3 linked regions of the Homo sapiens genome follow. The protein of the gene in region 2 purifies or fractionates together with the protein of the main gene of each other region. This does not show direct contact. Each region holds a gene or a part of one and is shown on either strand. Other genes may lie near its edges.

The links.
Region 1: the proteins of FNTB (region 2) and DYRK1A purify together in Homo sapiens (affinity purification with mass spectrometry; 5 studies listed by BioGRID). This does not show direct contact.
Region 3: the proteins of FNTB (region 2) and DHX57 purify together in Homo sapiens (affinity purification with mass spectrometry, with the first as the bait; 3 studies listed by BioGRID). This does not show direct contact.

The regions. Positions count from the first base shown.
Region 1 is NC_000021.9:37,509,752-37,516,788, forward strand, and holds part of DYRK1A (dual specificity tyrosine-phosphorylation-regulated kinase 1A), read left to right. Parts: intron 1-2,159; coding exon 2,160-2,780; 3' UTR 2,781-7,037. UniProt on the Homo sapiens protein: Dual-specificity kinase which possesses both serine/threonine and tyrosine kinase activities. Exhibits a substrate preference for proline at position P+1 and arginine at position P-3.
Region 2 is NC_000014.9:64,989,866-64,996,902, reverse strand, and holds part of FNTB (protein farnesyltransferase subunit beta), read right to left. Parts: intron 1-7,037. UniProt on the Homo sapiens protein: Essential subunit of the farnesyltransferase complex. Catalyzes the transfer of a farnesyl moiety from farnesyl diphosphate to a cysteine at the fourth position from the C-terminus of several proteins having the C-terminal sequence Cys-aliphatic-aliphatic-X.
Region 3 is NC_000002.12:38,872,919-38,880,294, forward strand, and holds the start of DHX57 (putative ATP-dependent RNA helicase DHX57), read right to left. Parts: upstream 3,017-7,376; 5' UTR 2,869-3,016; exon of another isoform or gene 2,627-2,868; intron 1-2,626. Other genes in the region: MORN2 (MORN repeat-containing protein 2), read left to right, coding at 3,135-3,192, 7,261-7,311. UniProt on the Homo sapiens protein: Probable ATP-binding RNA helicase.

The DNA.
Region 1 (7,037 bases), on a different chromosome or scaffold from region 2:
TTCATTTCCAACCTTTTTTACTATTTACAAATGGTAGTTTAATAAATAACCCTGTACGGTAGTGTCCCTTCTTATCCACAGTTCCAGTTATTCAGTCAGTCACGGTCCAAAAATATAAAGTGGAAAATTTCAGAAGCAATTCGTAAGTTTTAAATTCTGTTATGAGTAGCACGATGAAATCTCATGCTGTCCCACCCTGGGCATGACTCATCCCTTCGTCTAGCATGTCCACACAGTAGATAAGTTACTTTGCTTTGTAGCCATCTAGATTATCAGATCAAAAAACATAGTATATAGAGGGTTTAGTCCTCTGCAGTTTCAGGCATCCAGTGGGGATCTTGGACTGTATCTCTTGTGGATAAGGAGGCACCACTGTACATGTCTCATTCACACATAGACATTTTATCTGTGATATAAATTCCTGAAAGCAGAATGACTGTTTCAAAGGGTAATGTGATTTATAATTTTGATAACTATTGCCAGATTGCCCCCCATGTGATTTTCTAATCCAGTAACTTGATTAACTTCATATAAAAACCATATAGTATTTTCTGAGAACTCACTGCCAGCTTTTCTACTGATTGTTTTCAGTAGTATCTCTTAAAAGTTTGGTTCTCAGACCACCTTTGTTGAATAAACCCTTAACAATTTGTGCCAGCCACTGGATAGAGACTGAGCCTTTTGCCTTCCTAGAGCTTACAGTGACACAAGTAAATAAAATGAACATGAAGAAAAATGGCAAGTAGCATTAGCTGTTAAAAAGAAAATAAGGATAATTTGGTAGAGAAAGACTGTTTGTTGGATAGGATGTATTAATTAGAATAGGCCAAACTCTGATATAACAGACCCCCAAAATATGGTAGCTTAAAGAGTACCAAGTTTCCTTCATTTTTGTGCAACAGTCCAGAATAGGTGTTCAGGTTAGTGGCTAGGCCGTCTTCCAGGTCCTGATCTCCTACCATCTTGTGGTTCCACCTTGCCCTAGGGCCTACTTGTCTACTGTGTCCAGCAGGCAGAAGGACTTGGGAGGTATTATCTTGTGTGCCAGGCTAGCAGTGACACAAGCTTTCATTCACATTCCATTGACAGCTTAGACATATGGCCATCAGTAAGTACAAGGGAGGCTGGGAAGTGTTGTGTAGCCATGTGCTCAGGAACGAGAAGAATATTGTGCACAACCAGTAGCTTCTGCCACAGTTGTTGAGGCAGCATCAGCCAGAGTGGTCAGGGAAGGCTCTGGAACTGAAGCGATGAAAAAGAGACATCCAAGCAATAAGAAAATCCAAGAAATAACATTTCTAGGCAGAAGGGAGCAGCGTGTTACTAGTACACTGAGGCATTTGAGAGATTTTGACCCAGGGGAGGAATGGAAGGCAGGTCTTCTTTGTTTGGAACTCAGGTAGCCAGGGATAGGATGGGTGGAGAAAGAGGTTAGAGAAGTGGGCATTGGCCAGATGATGCAGATCGTTGTATCCATTTGGGTTTATTTTGTTTTTCTAAGTGCAGTGAGAAGTCATTAAAGGATTTTAAATAGGGAAGTGATTGGATTTGTGTTAAGAAAAGATTGTTCCTGCTACCCTTTGGAGAAGGGCAAGGATGGAAACAAGGAGTTCATTTAAGGGGCTGTTGTGTTAGCGTAGGCAAGAGATGATGGGGATGAAGAGAAGAGGCCAAATTTGGAATCTGTTTCACAGGTAGACTCATAAGTTCTTGCTCATGGGTTGGACAGAGGCATTGTTGAGCAGCTAGGTAGATAGTAGTCCTTTATTGAAAGAAGAAAGATGGAGAGAGGAAGGACATGAGGGAAAAGTAAAGACTTCCTTTTGGACCTGCCCAGAATACTGTCCAGCCCTTTTCAGGAAATATTTGCTGACCCCTGGCATAAACAGGGCTCCCAAGGAAGGACAGTGGCTAGTGAAATAGATGAACCTATTTAAGGATATAACTTCCTAAAAATTGCAGCTTTCATGATGAAATTTTTTGCCCTTGAATGTATTTGGGATTTTGTGTTATAAAACTGTCTTAACACATTAAAAGTTTCAAAAACCGTTTCCCCCTGATTAATATGATGCTAGTTTGTTAGTGTCATGGCTTTTGATGGAAGATTAAAGCTTGGAAACAGTCCTCTGAAAAATCCTTTTAAAAATCTGTTCTTTCAGGTGCGTCAGCAATTTCCTGCTCCTCTTGGTTGGTCAGGCACTGAAGCTCCTACACAGGTCACTGTTGAAACTCATCCTGTTCAAGAAACAACCTTTCATGTAGCCCCTCAACAGAATGCATTGCATCATCACCATGGTAACAGTTCCCATCACCATCACCACCACCACCACCATCACCACCACCATGGACAACAAGCCTTGGGTAACCGGACCAGGCCAAGGGTCTACAATTCTCCAACGAATAGCTCCTCTACCCAAGATTCTATGGAGGTTGGCCACAGTCACCACTCCATGACATCCCTGTCTTCCTCAACGACTTCTTCCTCGACATCTTCCTCCTCTACTGGTAACCAAGGCAATCAGGCCTACCAGAATCGCCCAGTGGCTGCTAATACCTTGGACTTTGGACAGAATGGAGCTATGGACGTTAATTTGACCGTCTACTCCAATCCCCGCCAAGAGACTGGCATAGCTGGACATCCAACATACCAATTTTCTGCTAATACAGGTCCTGCACATTACATGACTGAAGGACATCTGACAATGAGGCAAGGGGCTGATAGAGAAGAGTCCCCCATGACAGGAGTTTGTGTGCAACAGAGTCCTGTAGCTAGCTCGTGACTACATTGAAACTTGAGTTTGTTTCTTGTGTGTTTTTATAGAAGTGGTGTTTTTTTTCCAAAAACAAAGTGCAAAGCTGCTTGAATCAGGAGGAGATTAACACACTGAACCGCTACAAGAGGGCAAAGCTGATTTTTTTTTTAACTTGAAAAGATTGCAAAGGGACATTGAAGTGTTTAAAAGAGCCATGTCCAAACCCATCTTCATGGATAGCTCAGAGGTATCCTCTTTTTGCTCCCCCATTTTAACTTGCCACATCCCAGTCACAGTGGGGTTTTTTTGTCTTTCTATTCAGCAAAAGTTAATATTCAGATGTTGGTCTTGGTCATTTGCCAACTAATTTTAAAGTAAAAGGCACTGCACATAATTTGCATAAAGGGCCCCATGAGGGTGTTTTTTTTTTTTCTTTTTGTCCCCCCCATCCCCCTTTTTTTTTGTTTTGTTCTGTTTTGTTTTGGGTGGGAGGGTGGGAAATTTGGGTTTTTAAGTCCTCTAAACACACTTGGGCACGGAAATGCAGTACTGTAAGGAAGAGGGACCTCCAGCTTCCACAAACACCATCTTCAGCTGTATGAAAGGGACGGTTGTGGTGAAGTTTGTCAGGCACAGTAAGCATGCTGAGTGGCGGGGATCAGAACTCTCCTATCTGAACCTACTGAGGAGCAAAGCAGCAATTACATGGGATCCTGTGGCTCTCCCGTTGCAGAGGCCACAGGAAGATAGGATGGAACGTGACTGGTCTCCTAACCAAGGTGCACTGAGAAGCAATCAACGGGTCGGTCGTGGCCAGTCCTGGGGAGGTCTGAGTGGTGGTCTTTGGGATAACCTTTGGCCTTATGGATTTGGACTCGAAATTAGAAGAGCCTACCATTTCAGATGCAATCACTTTTGGACATGCTTTTGCAGACAGTCCTTAATGCTGAAAACACAGAGAATGGGTAATTCAAGAGGCCTTTCTTTTAAAATAGACTTTTGTGACCCACTAATTGTAAGGTATTGCAAGGTCACTTTGCGTGTGTCATAAAGTTGACTTCCTTATTGGTTGAAGGTCACAGAAGTAGTGGTTTGCTTTGATGGAAATAGCTACAGCTGTGTCCCTTCCTGCTTTTTACTTTTTCTTTTGCTTTTTCTCGGCACGTGGTATCTCCACCATTTCTTCTGCACAAAGATGTCTTCTGTTCATCCTGAACATTTTTAAAAAATGCAGAATTTTATGTGACTGCTTTTTTGCCTCACAATTATGCTGTGAATTTTACAAAAATTTATTTTCTTTTTTGATAATTTATTGTACCAAAGCTGTTTTTATAGCACATAGATGTCTGTAACCAATAATGTAGCAGTTCTGCACTTTGACACAAGGTGTAACTAGACCATTTTTAAATGTCAGTTGAAAATTATGGCTGTACTATTGCTTAAACAAAACTGGAACTGTTGTTGAATCCATAGCCAATACATTTACAGCAATCTGTGTACTGAACATAGTAGATTGACATCTAATTCAAGATTACAACATCTGTTACATTCTAAGTGTGTTCAGGCTTCTGAAGGTAAAGGGACACTGGATCCAGAAGCTATGGAACCAGCAGTTGATTCTTGTATTCCTGATTAACCTACTTGTAAACTTGAAAGCAAGACCTTGATTGCACCAACAGGTCCAGAGTATGAGTGCAAGCAAAGCAGAACTCTCATGCGTGACCTGAGCAGACAGGCTGGTATTTAACAGGTGCCTCGTGTTGAGATTACGCTGCCTTAATGTAACACAGTCTGGCAGTTGCTAAATTTGTGTTCCCATTTTAAATTGACCAATTTTGGGGTGTGACACTTTTGAGCGGTTGAATTGGGAGAATGAAGATAAGTAATTTACCTGTCCAGGATCAAAAGAAGCCTAGAAAAGAAGCAGTAATCTACCTCTGCCGATAACCTGTTTAAGATGACTCAGCAGAACACCGCGTTTCATTCTATTGGTCAATTCCATGTGGCTGACTAGGTCAATTTTTTTTCTGAACAAAAGCAGGTTTTTATATGTAAACAGTGAGAAAAGAAAGGCTAAACACTATGTAAATGTGAATGGAAACTTGGAAATACTCGTTTTTATAAACTACAAAAACTTTTTGTTGTTTATCAGGAAATCCATATTTATTTTGTAATTAACTGTCAAGCCTGTGGATGATTTTTTTGAACTTGGTAGTTCATAAAGGTTTACAGTGAATAAAAGGATATCATCTTGAGTATAGCAATATCAAAAGGAATTCAGTAGTTACTGCTGTTTAGGAATATAAGGTTAAGATATCATATGGGTCAGGTCATTTTTTTTTTCTGTGCTGGTTGCCACATCTTAGCAAGCACCAAAAAACTAAAGCAGTTTTTAAACCGATATTTACGTAAAGAAAATCATAAAATCCAATGCTTCTGCATACTGTGTTATGTTACAGTCCAGTTTTGTGTGCTTTACTACACAGTTTGGTTACAGGACTTCTGTGCATTGTAAACATAAACAGCATGGAAAAGGTTAAATACCTGTGTTCAGATTGTAAGATCTAGTCCGGACTTGCTGTGTATATTGTAACGTTAAATGAAAAAAGAACCCCCCTTTGTATTATAGTCATGCGGTCTTATGTATGATAAACAGTTGAATAATTTGTCCTCAGACTCTTTACTATGCTTTTTTAAAAATTAATTTAAGAAAAATGTAAACATAGTAAAAATCTTCCTATGCAATTAAACTGGTCCAGGTCTGGTAGGTATAGTATCAAAGTTGAGTTAAATGTGTAAAAAGGAAACTATTTGAGATACATTGACATAGGCATCAGCAATCTCTGAAAGTAAAAATTGGAGGTTTAACAGATCATTTTGATTTTTCACATTGATTTTTTTATTTGAATGTTTACATAATTTTGTGATTCAAAATGCTCATATTTTAGTTGGTAGCATTTCGACTGGATGTGAGGGTCTGATGGTTTTCTCTGATATGCTTTGACGTGCTTGGATGAAGGAAGGAATACGAATACTCATTCTTCCTTCCCTAACTCCTCGTACGGGGCCATATCAGAATTCTAGAATTCTTGCCACTGTGATTCAATTGCTAACCTAAAGTCTTCTCTTTTTACAAATTCACCTGCTTCAGTATATATTAAGGTGGCTTTCGAGAGGCAAGATGCTTATTTAAAAGTTAAGCGTGAATCTGTAAAATTAAGGTTGGTTGCGTAAAGTTGAAGTTAACCACATGTAAGAAAGGAAAACTTCCATTAGTTTTCTTCTTAGGGTGTGAGAATTTTACCTAGGCACATGGATATTGGGCTGAAAAAAAAAAACCGACATTTTTATTTAAAACTACATGTAAAAAATCATGAAAGATTCAGTAATTATGTTAGGCTCACAAGTGACCATTGAGTTTGCCCCTGTACTGCTTCCCAGCTTTTGTGGTGTTGAACTTTTCTGTTCTTCCAATAGGGAGATACATAATCAAAATACACACGAAGACGAGATAGCAGGCACTCAGTTCTAGGCCAGTTTCTCAGTTTCCTTTGGGCCTGCCTTTATTTTGATAGTCGCAGAATGCAGGTTCAGATGCGATCCGGTGCATTCTGGGTGGTATCCCCATAGACAGAATACAAGTTCAAGACTCATTTTTATGTCCATTTTTATAGTGGTAGACTGTATGTAATAGACCAGATGGTTCATTCCAAATACATGACTTGGTCTTACTGCTATATATGAAGGAAGTTTGAAAATGTAATGGGGACAAAAGCCGTGCGTGACTTCGGTATACCCAGACTTCATTCAGATTTCTTAAAAATCTGCTAGGGATGTCTGTTGACCAGACGTTGGAAAACCTTTGGTGTCAGGGAGAGTAGAGGAGAAGTTCTGATTTTCATAACCCTGGTTTCTTATCTAGGCCTGTTTCCTTGCGTGAAAACATACATCACCAAGTAATTTGTAGTACAAAGAACAAGAGAAGAAACCCTAAGAAGATAGCTTATTTGTTATCCTCCCTTTTAATGACTAACCTTAATCCAAATGAATCCACTGAGAACCAGCCTGTGGATGCCTACTGGGCTTTCACCCTGGACCAGGAATTTTTGACGTATGCCTGTGTTGAAGGCACTGGATGCTTGTTTTGTGGAAGACATGTTCATTGAGGTAAGTGGCTCATCGCTTGGTGTGTTTGGCTCTCTTTGGCATTATGCATAGCCAAGGTCCCAGATTTTGGCTGCTCTCAGTGGGTGTTCTTGCATCAGAACTTTAAAAAAAATAACA
Region 2 (7,037 bases):
TTATGATAAGGGCTGCTTCTGGGAAGGGTGGCAGGCACACTGAACTGGGGATAGGGTTAAAGGAGGCTTTGGCTATATTTCTAATTGCTTTTCCTTTAAACAAATAACCAGAAGCAAAAAAAAAAAAAAAAAAAAAGATGTTAGCAAATGTTAATTCTCAGTTATAGAAAAATGGCTCTTAATTACATTATTATACTTTTGTTAACCATAAATTTCTTAGAAAAATAAAGGAAAAGGATTTCAAAGTGCTTAGTTTTGTGATACCTCATCCCCTACACCTACTTAGATAGGCAGGCCACAACATACGCAGAAGCTGTGTTCTCAAAGTTCATTGGTTTTTAGACCTTATTTGTTTTCCCATCAACACAATGTTATACCTAACTGTTAGGTTCCAAGGCCAGCTCTCCCATTATTTAATGTATAACCTAACAAATGTTAAGCCTAACAGTACCTCTCTCACCTTCTCTAATCATGAGGCAACTGATCACTCACGATATGGCAAAAAGGGAACCCAAGAGTTGAGTTTACCCCTGCTCCTGACAGGGCACAGGCTAGATGTTTCTTTTCTTTTCTTTCTTACTTTCTCTCCCCTCTCTGTCTTTCTTTCTTTCTTATAATAGAGATGGGCCTCACCATGTTGCACAGGCTGGTCTCAAATTCCTGGCTTCAAGCAGTCCTCCTGCCTCAGCCTCCCAAAGTGCTGGGATCACGGGCATGAGCCACGGTGCCCAGCCCAGGCTTGGTTGTTTCTTTTCTTTTTTCTTTTTTTTTTTTTTTTTGAGACAGAGTTTTGCTCTTGTCATGCAGGCTGGAGTGCAATAGCATGATCTCAGCTCACTGCAACCTCCACCTCTCAGGTTCAAGCGATTCTCCTGCCTCAGCCTCCTGAGTAGCTGGGACTACAGGTGCCTGCCACCAGGCCTGGCTAATTTTTGTATTTTTAGTAGAGATAGGGTTTGACCAAGTTGGCCAGGCTGGTCTCAACCTCAGGAGATTCGCGTGCCTCAGCCTCCCAAAGTGCAGAGATTACAGATATGAGCCATTGCACCCAGCCCCAGGCTAGGTGTTTCTGTGTACAGAATGTTTTCAAGTTTGCTGGTCAGGCTTTATACATACATACATACATACATACGTACATATACATACATACACTTATATGCACACATGTATATATATAAAATATATACATATATAATATACACATATATCTTTAAAATATATAATATAAACTAAGTATGTATCAACTTATAAACTATACACACATATATGATATAAACTAATATAGTAATGTGCCACATAAGGATGTTTTGGTCAAGAACGTACCCCATATTCCACGGCAGTCCCGTTAAGACTATGATGGAGCTGAAAAATCCCTACAGCCTAGTAACACAGCTTTCATGATGTTGTAGCACAAAGCATTACTCACATGCCTGTGGTGATGCTGGTGTAAATAAACCTACTGCACTGTCAGTGTTATAAAAGTATAACACATACAATTATGTACAGTACATAACACTTGATAATGATAATAAACAACTACATTACTAATTCACATGTTTACTATACTATATATTATTATTTTAGAGTGTAACTCTACTTATTTAAAAAATTAACTATAAAACAGCTTGAGGCAGGTCCTTCAGGAGGAATTCCTGAAGAACGCACTGTTATCCTAGGAGATGACAGCTCCATGCCTATCACTGTCCCCGAAGGCCTTCCAGTGGGATGAAATGTGGAGATGGAAGGCAGTGACACTGATGATCCTGACCCTGTCTAGGTCCAGGCTAATGTGTGCGTTTGTGTCTTGGTTTTTAACAAAGAAGTTTAAAAGGTAAAAAGAAAGTTAAAAAATTTAAAGTAGAAAACAGCTTACAGAATAAAAATATACAGAAAATATTTTTGTACAGCAGTACAATGTGCTTGTGTTTTAAACTGTTATTACAAAAGGGTCAAAAAGCTGTAAAAAAATTTTTTAAGTTCATGAAGTAAATAATTTACAGTAAGCTAGGTTTAATTTATTATTGAAAGAAAAAAGCGTATGAATAAATTTAGTGTAGCTTAAGCATACCGTGTTTATTTTTATTTTTCATAATGTCTGCTCAGTAACAAGTGTACAGTGTTTATAAAGTCTACAGTAGTGTACACTCATATCCTAGGGCTTCACATTCATTCACCACTCATTCACTCACTCACCCAGAGCAACTTCCAGGCCCACAAGCTCCATTCATGCTAAGTTCCCTAGATAGGTCTATCATTTTTTATCTTTTATAACATATTTTTACTTTACCTTTTCTATATTTACATATGTTTAGATACAAAAATATTTACCATTGTGTTCCAATTGCCTGCAGTATTTAGTACAGTAACATACTGTGTAGGTTTGTAGCCTGTAGCCTAGGAGCAACAAGCTATACCATATAGCCTAGGTGTGTAGTAGGCTATGCCATCTACATTTGTGTTAAGTACACTCTATGATGTTCACATGACAAGGAAATTTCCTACTGACAATGTATTTCTACTGTTAAGTGATACATAACTATATGTATATTAGTTTGTATTGTTCAGTAATGGAGAGATTGTGTTAGACTCTAGGGGCCAGGGATCAAGTAACTGTACTAGGGTCCCCAACACTTAGGTGCCATGGCAATAAATAAATGAAGAGCTAACCAAATGCCTGCATTCTGGACAGCTCTGTTTAAAAGGTATTTCATGGAGTTTTTCATTTAATCAATAGAAATCCAATCACTAGGCCAGGCATGGTACCTCACGCCTGTAATCCCAGCACTTTGGGAGGTGGAAGCGGGTGGATCATTTGAGGTCAGGAGTTTGAGACCAGCCTGGTCAACATGGTAAAACCCCACCTCTACTAAAATACAAAAATTAGCCGGGTGTGGTAGCACATGCCTGTAATCCCAGGTACTTGGGAGCCTGAGGCAGGAGAATCGCTTGAACCCAGGAGGCGGAGGTTACGGTGAGTGGAGATCGCACCACTGCACTCCAGCCTGGGCGACAAGAGCGAAACTCTGTCTCAAAAAAAATAAAAATAAAAAAAGAAAAAAAAAAAGAAATCCAATCAATAAAAGCAGAGAATAGTTTCCATTCAGTAAGTGGTAAACAACAACTAATGCATTTGGCACTTTCTCTTTCACAGCTTCTATCTAAAGCCAATCTCATGAGGCACCAACTTTCATACCAGGCACTATCACTTCTCTGCTTCCTATATCTCCCTCCTCTCCCAGAGACAGAATGTTTCAGAAAGTAGATTTGCTGCCTAAGATTCATGTCATTGAAGCTGCAGTAGAAGAGTCATTTAATATATGAAATATAAGGCAAGACTTTTCAAAAAAAATTCTCTCTCAGAAAATACAAGTCACTTTATATTCAAATACTTACAAAGTACCTCTTGCTGTAGGAAGTTTTGCAATTTCCTTATTTTGAATACAAAGTACCAGCTGGGGATGACACAATACCCTAAAACAACCTCAGTTAAGGCTGCTTTGGCTAATGGTAATCAGTGAAACAAGATAAATTAAACACAAATTTAGTAATTATCCCTGGAGATATAAACTCACACTTCCATGTGTAAACTGCCATTGTAAGGCCAGCTTTTTATTTTGTTTATTCATTTTTTACTTTTTTTAGAGATGGAGTCTCACCCTGTTGCCCAGGCTGTCTCGAATTTGTGGGCTCAAGCTATCCACCCACTTGGCCTTCCAAAGTGCCAGGATTACAGGCATCAGTCACCATGCCTGGCCAGTAGACCAACGTTTTAAAGATCATTTTAGCTGGGCGCGGTGGCTCATGCCTGTACTTTGGGAGTCCAAGGTGGGCGGATAGCTCGAGTTCGGGACCAGCCTGGGCAACACAGGGAAACCCTGTCTCTACAAAAAAATATAAAAAGTAGCCGAACATGGTAGCGCACGCCAGTAGTTCCAGCTAGTCAAGAGGCTGAGGTGGAAGGATCACTTGAGCCTGGAAAGTTGCTACAGTGAGCCATGATCATGCCACTGCACTCCAGCCTGGGAAACAGAGTGAGACCCTGTCTTTAAAAAAAAATAGAAATCATTTGAAAAAGTAATAAAGTGGTTAAGTTGCAGTGACCACAAATATATACCAACTGGAAACACTGCAAAAAAAAAATTCTAGGCTCACGTCTGTAATCCCAACACTTTGGTAGGCCAAGGCAGGCCTGTGAGGTCAAGGCTACAGTGAGTGGTGATTGCATCACCGCACTCCAGCCTGGGCGACAAAGTGAGACCCTTTCTTAAAAAAAAAGTCTAATGTTATGCAAGTGGATACTTGTAACTTGGAATAAACTGTTCAGTGGTAACACCTTATTCATATTCAAAAACGATGTATCTCAAGAACTGAACATGTGGTCCGGAAATCCACATTGGCTGACTCAAAAAGTGGCTCCAGTGATGATAAAAATAGTGAAGTCAAAGATGCATGTGAAGAGTCTGAAAAGAAACATTTTATAAATAAGAAGAGGAGGAAAACCAGCATTTCTAAATTAGTGTTACTTTATAAAGTAGGTGATTTTAAGTAGGTATATGGACCCAAATTTAAATGTAAATTTTGTAAGCAGGTATTTTTCACTTATATACCTAAAAGTACATGTATTTTCAACTTGACCAAAAACAACCTTTTGGACTTTTTAATGGGGAAATTTTGATATGCAGGATTACTTTACACTTGGGCAATATGGTATATGCTGAATTTCAATAAAATAAAATGGATTCAGAAAGCTAGCCTACTGACCACCTAACCAAGCAGAGCTCCAGTCCCTTCTATCAGAGGCATAAAAAGTTGGGAAGTTTTATCATATTTAGTGATTTGTTCCACCTCCATTTACTAATATTTTGGATCCTATAAGCTGAAATAAGTCAACAGCAGGTCAGGATTCTGTTCCGCTGGTCCCTCCTTAGGATATGTGGTGGCCCACTGCCCGAACCTGAAGCCAGCACATCACCTGCCTCTTAATACCCTGATAGGGGCCCACCCGCCCAGCTCACCTCATTTCCTACCACATCCAACCTGCACCCTCCGTTCCTGGTAAGCCATCTTAACGCCCCCAGTCAAGCCTGAGTCTTCCCTCAAAACAGCTCTCCCTCCTTGAATGGCTGCCCCAAACTCTATTTTTTACAGCCCACCCAGTTCCACGTTCTCCATGAAGTCATCCTGACCACCTCAGCCCACACAGATGGCTTTTCAACTCCCCAAAATCCTCGTGCAAAGCAGTTATAATTTAGCACTCTGTGACTGCCTATAGCATATTCTTCTTATTTTTTTCTTTTTTGAGATGGAGTCTTGCTCTGTCACCCAGGCTTGAGTGCAATGGTGCAATCTCGGCTCACTGCAACCTCCGCCTCCCAGGTTAAAGAGATTCACCTGCCTCAGTGTCCTGAGTAGCTGGTATTACAGGTGCACACCACCACGCCTAGCTAATTTTTGTATTTTTTTAGTAGAGATGAGGTTTCACCATGTTGGCTAGGCTGGTCTCAAACTCCTGACCTCCAGTGATCCGCCAGCCTCAGCCTCCCAAAGTGCTGGGATTACAGGAGTGAGCCACCGCACTCGGCCTTACAGCATATTCTTTTTTATCTCTCTAAGATAAAAGAATTTTGAGGGCAGGGATCAAGACTAATAATTCTCTTATATTCCCCTCAGAGTTCAAGTCACTTCATTGACAATGAACCATGCCAATGGTTCAATGACACCATGCCATTTAAAGTGGAGGACGCGTTTGCCTCTGTTCAAAGACAAACTCAAAGAAAAACAGTAGTATCTTTTGTAAACACCTGTTTTTGGCAAGGCTGCTACCTCTGAGACTATCAGTATTAACCTACTGGCCTGAATCAGAGTGTCTGCAATGGGATGATTCCAGATGGCACAATAAGGAAGGCAGGCACTAACAATACAACCATGTCTTGTTCTCTAGTGTCATGAAAGGCCCTCCCTGCATCTGCATTAACAAAACAGCTTAGCAAGGTAGAGACCTTCATAAAAATATCCAGAGCTGACCATTTCTCATTACCTCCACTACCGTCACTGTGAGCTAAGCCACCGTCACCTCTCTCCCAGGATACTGCAATAGCCTCCTAACTGGTTTCCCTGTATCCACCCTCACTCCCCACCATCTACTCTTGACAGTAACCTAAATGAGCCTGTTAAAATGCTAGTCAGACTGTGTCACTCCCCTGCTCAAAACTCTCTGATCATGGATCAGTCTAAGTCCTGGCAGGAAACAGATGGCACAAAGTGGGTGATTTGAGGAGAGTTTATAAAGGAACTATTTACAAAGATGTGGGCAGGTGTAGGGAAACCACAAGAGAAAATGCAGTATCTGGAGCTGGTAAATCAGGGGTACCTGAACTCCTCATAGACCTGAAGGTGTGAAGGATGGAGAGGGAGGGAGACAAAGAGCTCCGCAGAGAAGGCACATGACAGGAAATGTGACCTTAAGTCTAAGGAAACCCCACCCCACACAAGCCTGCAGGAGGGAAGAAATACAGTGGTCTCATTCTTCTCCTTCTCGGTCACCCCCAGCAATACTTCCCATGGCCCGCAGCCATAAAGCAAGGCAACCTGTCAGTGCAGGGCCCCCTCCTGGGGCACATCTACAGAGCAGGCTAGAAAAGGGCCAAGTGAATCTGGGGCAGTAAATGGCAGGTATACAGCCAAGTGGCTCTCCATCTCAGTCAGGGTATTTTAAAGTACTTCCAAAGGCCAATGAGACCCTACATGATCCGACCCATCTCCTACTCTCTGGTTTGCTAAGCCCCCTGCTCACCTGGCATTCTGCTGCCTTGGTCCTTTGTGCTTGCTGCTTTCTCTGCCCAGAATACTCTTGCACCAGATCCATGATGGCTTCCTCCCTCATCTGAGACTTCAGGTCTCAGATCACATGTGTTGTCACCAGAGGGTTCCCCTTAACACCTTATATGAAGACCTCCCCTGCTCCCACCCCACCCATTCCTGACACACCCTATCCCCTCTATCCCAAGGTGTTACTCTCCACAGCGTTTCTAATTAAC
Region 3 (7,376 bases), on a different chromosome or scaffold from region 2:
CATACTTCTGAAGTACACATGAAACATTTTCCAGGATATAGACCATACTAGGTGATAAAAGAAACCTCAATACATTTTTTTTTTTTTAAGACAGAGTCTTGCTCTGTCGCCCAGGCTGGAGTGCAGTGGCACAATCTTGGCTCACAGCAACCTCCGCCTCCCAGGTTCAAGCGATTCTCCTGCCTCAGCCTCCCGAGTAGCTGGGACTACAGGCACCCGCCACCATGCTCCCTGACTAATTTTTGTATTTTTAGTAGAGATGGTGTTTCACCATGTTGGTCAGGCTGGTCTCGAATTCCTGACCTCAGGTGATCTGTCCACCTTGGCCTCCCAAAGTGCAGGGATTACAGGCGTGAGCCACTGTGCCCAGCCATAAACCTCAATAAATGTAAAAAGAAAGAAATAATATGAACTATGTTCTCCAACCAAAATGGAATTAGAAATCAAAAGCTAGAAAAAATTTGGGAAACTCACAAATATGTGTATATTAAACTAGGTCTTCCTAGGTATTCCTTTCTTCAAAATTGCTGATGATTATACATATGTATTCAGAGTTTATCTTAAGTTTGTCTCTCCTTTCTACTCCCAGAAAGCTCTTTGAAAACAAGACTATGTCTATTTTGATTACCACTGTACCCTTAACACAGTGTCTAGCATATGGTAGGAATTCAGTATCTATTTGTGGAATGAATGATTGAAGGTTGAAAAAATGACTTATGTGGGAATGGAGATTTGTTCATCTATTTATTCATTCCACAAATATTTATTGAGCACTTATTATGTGCCAGATCCTGGGGATATAACAGCAAAAAAGACAAAATTTCTGCTTCATGAAGCTTACCTTCTAGAGGGTAACACAGACATTAAACAAATAGATATATATTATAACTTAAGTGCTATCAAGGAAAAAAAACCCCCGAGGCAGTTATTTTAGATAGAGTGGTTGGGTAAGGCCTCTTTGAGATTTTAAAGGACATCCGGAAGAAATTGACAGAATGAGCCATGAAATAGTCATCCCTCGGTATACACAGGGGATTGGTTCCAGAACCCCCATGTATACCAAAATCCACGGATACTCAAGTTCTCCAGTCAGCCCTGTAGAACCTGCATAGAGGAAAAGTTGGCCCTCTGTATGTGGGTTTTGCATTCCAGGAATACTGTCTTTTCTTTTTTCTTTCTTTCTTTTTTTTTGAGACTGGATCTTGCTCTATCACCCAGGCTGCAGTGCAGTGGTACGATCATAGCTTACTGCAGCCTCGATCTCCTAGGCTCAAGCAATCCTCCTGCCTCAGCCTCCTGAATAGCTGGGACCACAGGTGCACCACCACACCCAGCTACTTTAAACATTTTTTAGTAGAAATGAGGTTTCGCTTTGCTGCCCAAGCTGGTCTCGTACTCCTGAGCTCAAGCAATCGTCTCACCTTGGCCTCCCAAAGTGCTGAGATTACCGGCATGAGCCACTGTGCCTAGTTGAAATACTGTATTTTTTTTTTTTTTTTTTTTTTTTTTGAGACAGAGTCTCACTCTGTCGCCCAGGCTGGAGTGCACTGGCGCAGTCTCAGCTCACTGCAACCTCCACCTCCCGGGTTCACGCCATTCTCCTGCCTCAGCCTCCTGAGTAGCTGGGACTACAGGCACCCGCCACCATGCCCGGCTAATTTTTTGTATTTTTAGTAGAGACAGGGTTTCACCGTGTTAGCCAGGATGGTCTCGATCTCCTGACCTCGTGATCCGCCCGCCTCGGCCTCCCACAGTGCTGGGATTACAGGCGTGAGCCACCGCGCCCGACCTGAAATACTGTATTTTCAATCTGTGTTGGGTTGGGAAAAATCCACCTGTAAGTGGAGCCGGGTAGTTCATACCCATGTTGTTCAAACGTCAACTTTACTCACAAAAATGTAGAGTCATTAAAATCTTAACAGGCAAGAAAAATAACAGGTCAAACTGAATTCTGTAAGGTTGTGCACCAATAATTACCTATTATTTCTAAAATTTAGGGAAATGAAATAACAAATCAGTTAGATTAGAACTTCATCTCAAAAACCATGCAGCCCAGGTAAATTTGTGTACTGAGAAACATTAGGAAAAAGCAAGAGGATACTTACGCTGAATCAAAACAAGTTGTCTCACACCAACCCAGAAAATGTTACTTTTACAACTAGATCTGAGATATGCGCTTAACATTTTAAACGAAGATTTACTGACTGTAATGGTGTCCAATACCACTCTCCCAGAGTTTTCAAGGGAATAGGAATTAGGTTGTATAATCCACGTGGTTAGATTCCACTATCTATTCCATCTAGCCCGGGAAGACTCCAACTATCTTTCTTCACCATGGATACAGGGACCTAAGTTTGGCTGTAAGAGTATTCTTTGTTTGATAGCCAAGGCACTGAAAAGTGACTACACACTACTCTCCTCCCAGGCAGATCTCTGACTGATCACAATATATCCAGCTCCATCCAGATATCCAGATCTCGTATCCTTTTTCGAACTCACATCGTCCCCACCCTTCTCCCCAAAAAAGCCACACAGACGGAGTCAGAGAACGGAGCCTGATCCCTTCAATCAACCCCTTAGCCTGCTCCAAGACTGAATTTCACGCCCCGCCCCCCCCGGCCCCAACCTGCAGTTTGAGCGTGGACAACCTCAGCGGCAGAGCCCGCCTTGGTTCGGTATCAGGGCCTGGGATCCTGCTGGTCCAGATTCACCGGCCCCAGGCAGACTGGATGAAACACACTGGGCCGCGATGCTCGTCAGATCCCGACCACTCCTGGAGCAGGAGGCGGCAGACACACTGACAAACAGGGTGACGCGCACACCGTGCGCACAACGCGCATCACTTGTCCGCAGAAGTGGAAGACGTACCTGGCTCGCAGAGTTGGGTCCCGAGCCGGCTGTCGGGAGGTGCTGCCCAAGGGTCAGAGGTCCAAACTGGACTTGGCCACCCTCACGATTCTCACTTGGAGCAGCCCTGCGGTGGCCCAGCTGCAGCGGCACAGTCCCGGCGCCTTCTGATTGGCTCAGCTACAGCCCCTCGCGTATTCGCTTCCGGGTGAGAGGTGCCCGGTCGCCCCAGCAACCAAGTCGCACCTGGAGCTGTCCTAGCGCCTAGTTCTCTCCCGGCCGCAGAGCTGGCCGCCCAGGGGGAGTCGCAGAGTTTGGAAGATCTCTCTAACACCTCTCGGCCAAGTGAGTGTCCCTCCTCCTAACGACCCGGGCAGAGAAGAGCTCCTTTAAGTCGAACTAGCGTGGAGTCAGAACCTGCTTGGCTCCCGGTAACTCCTGTGGGGGTGTGATATATTTCCTGACCGTCTAGCCGAGGGGCACGGGGGAACCCCTGGTCTGGGAATCTAGCTCTGATTCTGTTGTTAATTCGCTGTTGAGACACCCGAGGCGCGTGCCAACCTCCCTGGGCCTCAGTTTCCGCTATGGTGCCGGGTGGTCTCTGTGAGGTTCCCTCTAGCTCTGACGTTCCCAAGTTTCGAATGTAGAACATTTTAGCGGCAATTGAAAACAGTCCAGTTTCTGATATGATTACGTTTAATGCTCTGCTTCATAGGCACTTAACGATTCCTTCCGAAGTGCCCTTCATTCACTAGACGTTCTGTTACTATTAGTACTAAACACGGAGTCGGACAGTGGGGTGAGAAGAGATTTGACTAATCTGCCATCCGTGTCCTGGAGGAACTGGGTGGGATAGGGGATCCCGATACAAAAGCATGGTTTTAATAGAACCTTAAGTACTACAGTAGGAATAGGCCCAGAGTGCCGTGGGGGTTCCTGAAGGAGTCTGAGGTTGACAAGTAATGAGAAGAAAGGCTTTGTGGGAGAGCTCATACCTGAGCTGGGGCTACAAGAATACAATAGCTAATATTTACAGAGTTTAGACACTGGGCTAAGTGCTTTAACTAGATTAGCTCATTTACTTGATTTGCCCCATCTAAGGATGAGGAAACTGAGGCATAAGATAATTATTTGTCCAAGGTCAGAGAAAATGGTGGAGTCTGGATGCAAAGGTAGGTAGTCCGATGCCAGAGCATGAACCCCTAACTACTACACTCTATTTTGCCAACTCTTGAGGATGAATAGCAGTTAACCAGGTAAAGAAGAGAAGGGTGTTCCACCCAGAGTACGGCATGGCATCTGTGGGAAACTACAAGCAGATCTGGTAATCTAGTTAGTTATCATTAGTTAAACACTTAGAAAGTAGCTCTGACGCCTGTAGTTCCAGCTACTTGGGAGGCTGAGGCAGGAGAATGGCGTGAACCCGGGAGGCGGAGGTTGCAGTGAGACGAGATCAAGCCACTGCACTCCAGCCTGGGCGACAGAGCGAGACTCCGTCTCAAAAATAAATAAATAAATAAATAAATTAAATTAAATTAAATTAAATTAAAAAATAAAAAAGAAAGAAAGTAGCTCTGTGTCCCTGCTCTCTTGGAATTTCACATCTTGCAGACATGTAAATAACTAATTAATGAGCACACATGGCAATTTCTGTATACCACCATACTTCACCCTTTATCCACAACCAAATCTTAGAAATTATGGGGAAAAAATAAGCAAACATAACTAAATTCAGATTTTTCTAAGATTTAGTGTTAATTAGTGTCTATATTTAACCCCTAAACGAGATCAGAATTCTAGCAAGATTGCTCTCTATCCTCCACACCATTTCCATATTGATATTACCTGAGTTTTAGTTACAGATTCTTTTTTTTTCTTTTTGAGTTTTTAATTTTGGTGTAGATGGAATCTCACTATGTTGCCCAGGCTGGTCTCAAACTCCTGGGCTCAAGCAGTCCTCCCACCTCACCCACCCAAAGCGTTGGGATTACAGGCATGAGCCACCAGATTCTATTTTTAAAACTTAATTTTTTTTATTTTATTATTTTTTTAAGACAGAGTCTTGCTGTCTCACCCAGGCTGGAGGGCAGGGTGTGATCGGACTCACTGCAGCCTTCACTTCCTGGGCTCAAGCGATCCTCCCACCTCAGCCCCCAAGTAGCATGGACAACAAGCATGCAACACCACACCCAGCTAATTCTTGTATTTTTTGTGGAGAATGGGTTTCACCATGTTGCCCAGGCTGGTCTCGAACTCCTAGGCTCAAGCAACCCACCCTCCTCAGCCTCCCGAAGTGCTGGGATTCCAGGCATGAGCCAGTAATTCATCCTACCAGCGTGCCTGCCAGTTTCCATGATTTTAGATTGATAGTTTCGTTGGATGTAGAATATTAGGTTGAAAATAATTTTGTCTCGGAATTTTAAAGACATAGTGCCATTTTTTTTTAGAATCCACTGTTGCTAATGTCAGTCCTTTGTAGTTTATTGTAGGTAATCTGGTTTTTGTTTGCTTGTTTTTAACTAGCCTAGCTGGCCTTTGGTCTTTATGTCATGAAATTGTACTGTAACCTGTCTAGGTGTGGGATTTTGCTTAGTTCCCATTTGTAGTCCAAGCAGTCATTTTCTTCAGTTCTGAGAAAAATTTGGCTATTTATTCAAATATCCCTTATTCTTTCCCTCTGGAATTCTTATTAGACTGACAGTAGCCTTTTGGATCCACTTTCCATCATTTTAAAATTCTTTGTGCTACTTTCTTTTTTTTTAATTAAAAAATTTTTTTTCCAGCCATCTCACTCACACTTTGTGCTACTTTCTAAGCACATTTTTCAACCTAATGTTCCAGTTCACTAATTTGTTTTCAATTGTATCTATTCTGCTTTTCATCCCTTCTAAGAAGTTTTATTTCACCAATTATATTATTCATTTCCTGGATTGCTAATTGTTTTTTGTTTTTTGTAATCACCTGTTCCTATTTCAAGGATACTAATACTCTCCCTTTCTCTCTGAGGATGTTACAGTTTAAGTCCTCTACCTATTGTGTTAACTCTGTTTCCTCAGTGATGAGCCTCCAAGCCTTTCTCAAGTGGTACCTAAATTAATTTTTAAATTCCCTTGCCCCACCCGTAAAGACTGATTCAGTAGATGTGGGGTAGAGAGAAGAAACTTAGAAGCATCTCAGGTGATTCTGAAGGATGGGCCTGCATACCGTCTCTACATAAGTTTTCTTCAGTATCGGAAAATACAGTTTCTAGTTTTAGTCCAGTAAGTGTCCAGGGATCTGAGGCCCAGAGTCCCCCTCAGTCTTGCGGTCCTCTTTCTTCCTTTTTCACTTGGTCTCCATTCCAGTCTCATTCTGTGTGGACCTACCAGCCCTTCCCCACTTGCTATCTTTATTTTCCATTTCTTCCTATTGCCAATTTAAAGATTCCTCACTCCACCTTACCTCTGTGGGACAATCAGTAAATCATATGGGCTACCAAAGAGAAATAAAAACATATCCACACAAAAATCTGTACACCAATTTTTTTTTTACTCCTAGGAAGCTGTATGTTTTGAAAATGTACATCAGTGTTTATAGCAGTATTATTCATAATGGCCTCAAACTGGAAACAACCTACATGTCCATGAACTGATGAATGAATAAACAAAATATGCTGTTTCTGTACAACATATTTATACAATATACTTGGCTATAAAAAGGAATGAAGTACTGATACACGATGCAACATGGATGAGCCTTGGAAACATTAAGTGAAACGAGCCAGACATAAAGGACCACATATTATATGATTTCATTTATAAGAAATGTCCAGAATAGGCAAATCCCTGAGGCAGAAAGTAGATTAGTGGTTGCCAGGGGTTTGGGGTTGTGGGGTGAGGGGTGTTTGAGGGGAATCATAATGGGTAACTGCTAATGTGTACAGAGTTTCTTTCTGGGATGATTAAAATATTCTAAAATTAGATTGTGATGATAGTTGCACAACTCTGAATATACTAAAAAAATCAAATTGTATTTTTTTAAAGGGTAGATTTTGTGGTGTGTGAATTATATATTAATAAAGCTATCATAATAAATAAATTTTAAAAGAGATCATCTAGGCAAAATTGTTTATTTCCCCGGGACCCTACATTAGACAATGGAAATACCAAGTAATCATGATATGATGTGATCTTGAGAAGTAAGTCCATTTGGATAGTGCTGAAAGCACATTGGGTATAGGTCTTATGACATAAGAATGTTTACACTTGGTTGGGTGTGGTGGCTCACATTTGCATCCCCAGCACTTTGGGAGGCTGAGGCGGGAGGATCGCTTGAGCCCAGGAGTTTGAGACTGGCCTGGGCAATGTAGTGAAACCTTGCCTCTATCGAAAAAAAAGTAAACTTATGTCACTGTTTTTAAATCTTTTAAAACAGCTTCAGAAGTGTATAAGATCAGCTTTATCTTTCCAAATGGAGACAAGTATGGTAAGTATACGCTTCAATTACTTTTTCTGTATAGAAAATTAAATAGCTTAGGAATAAAAAACTGA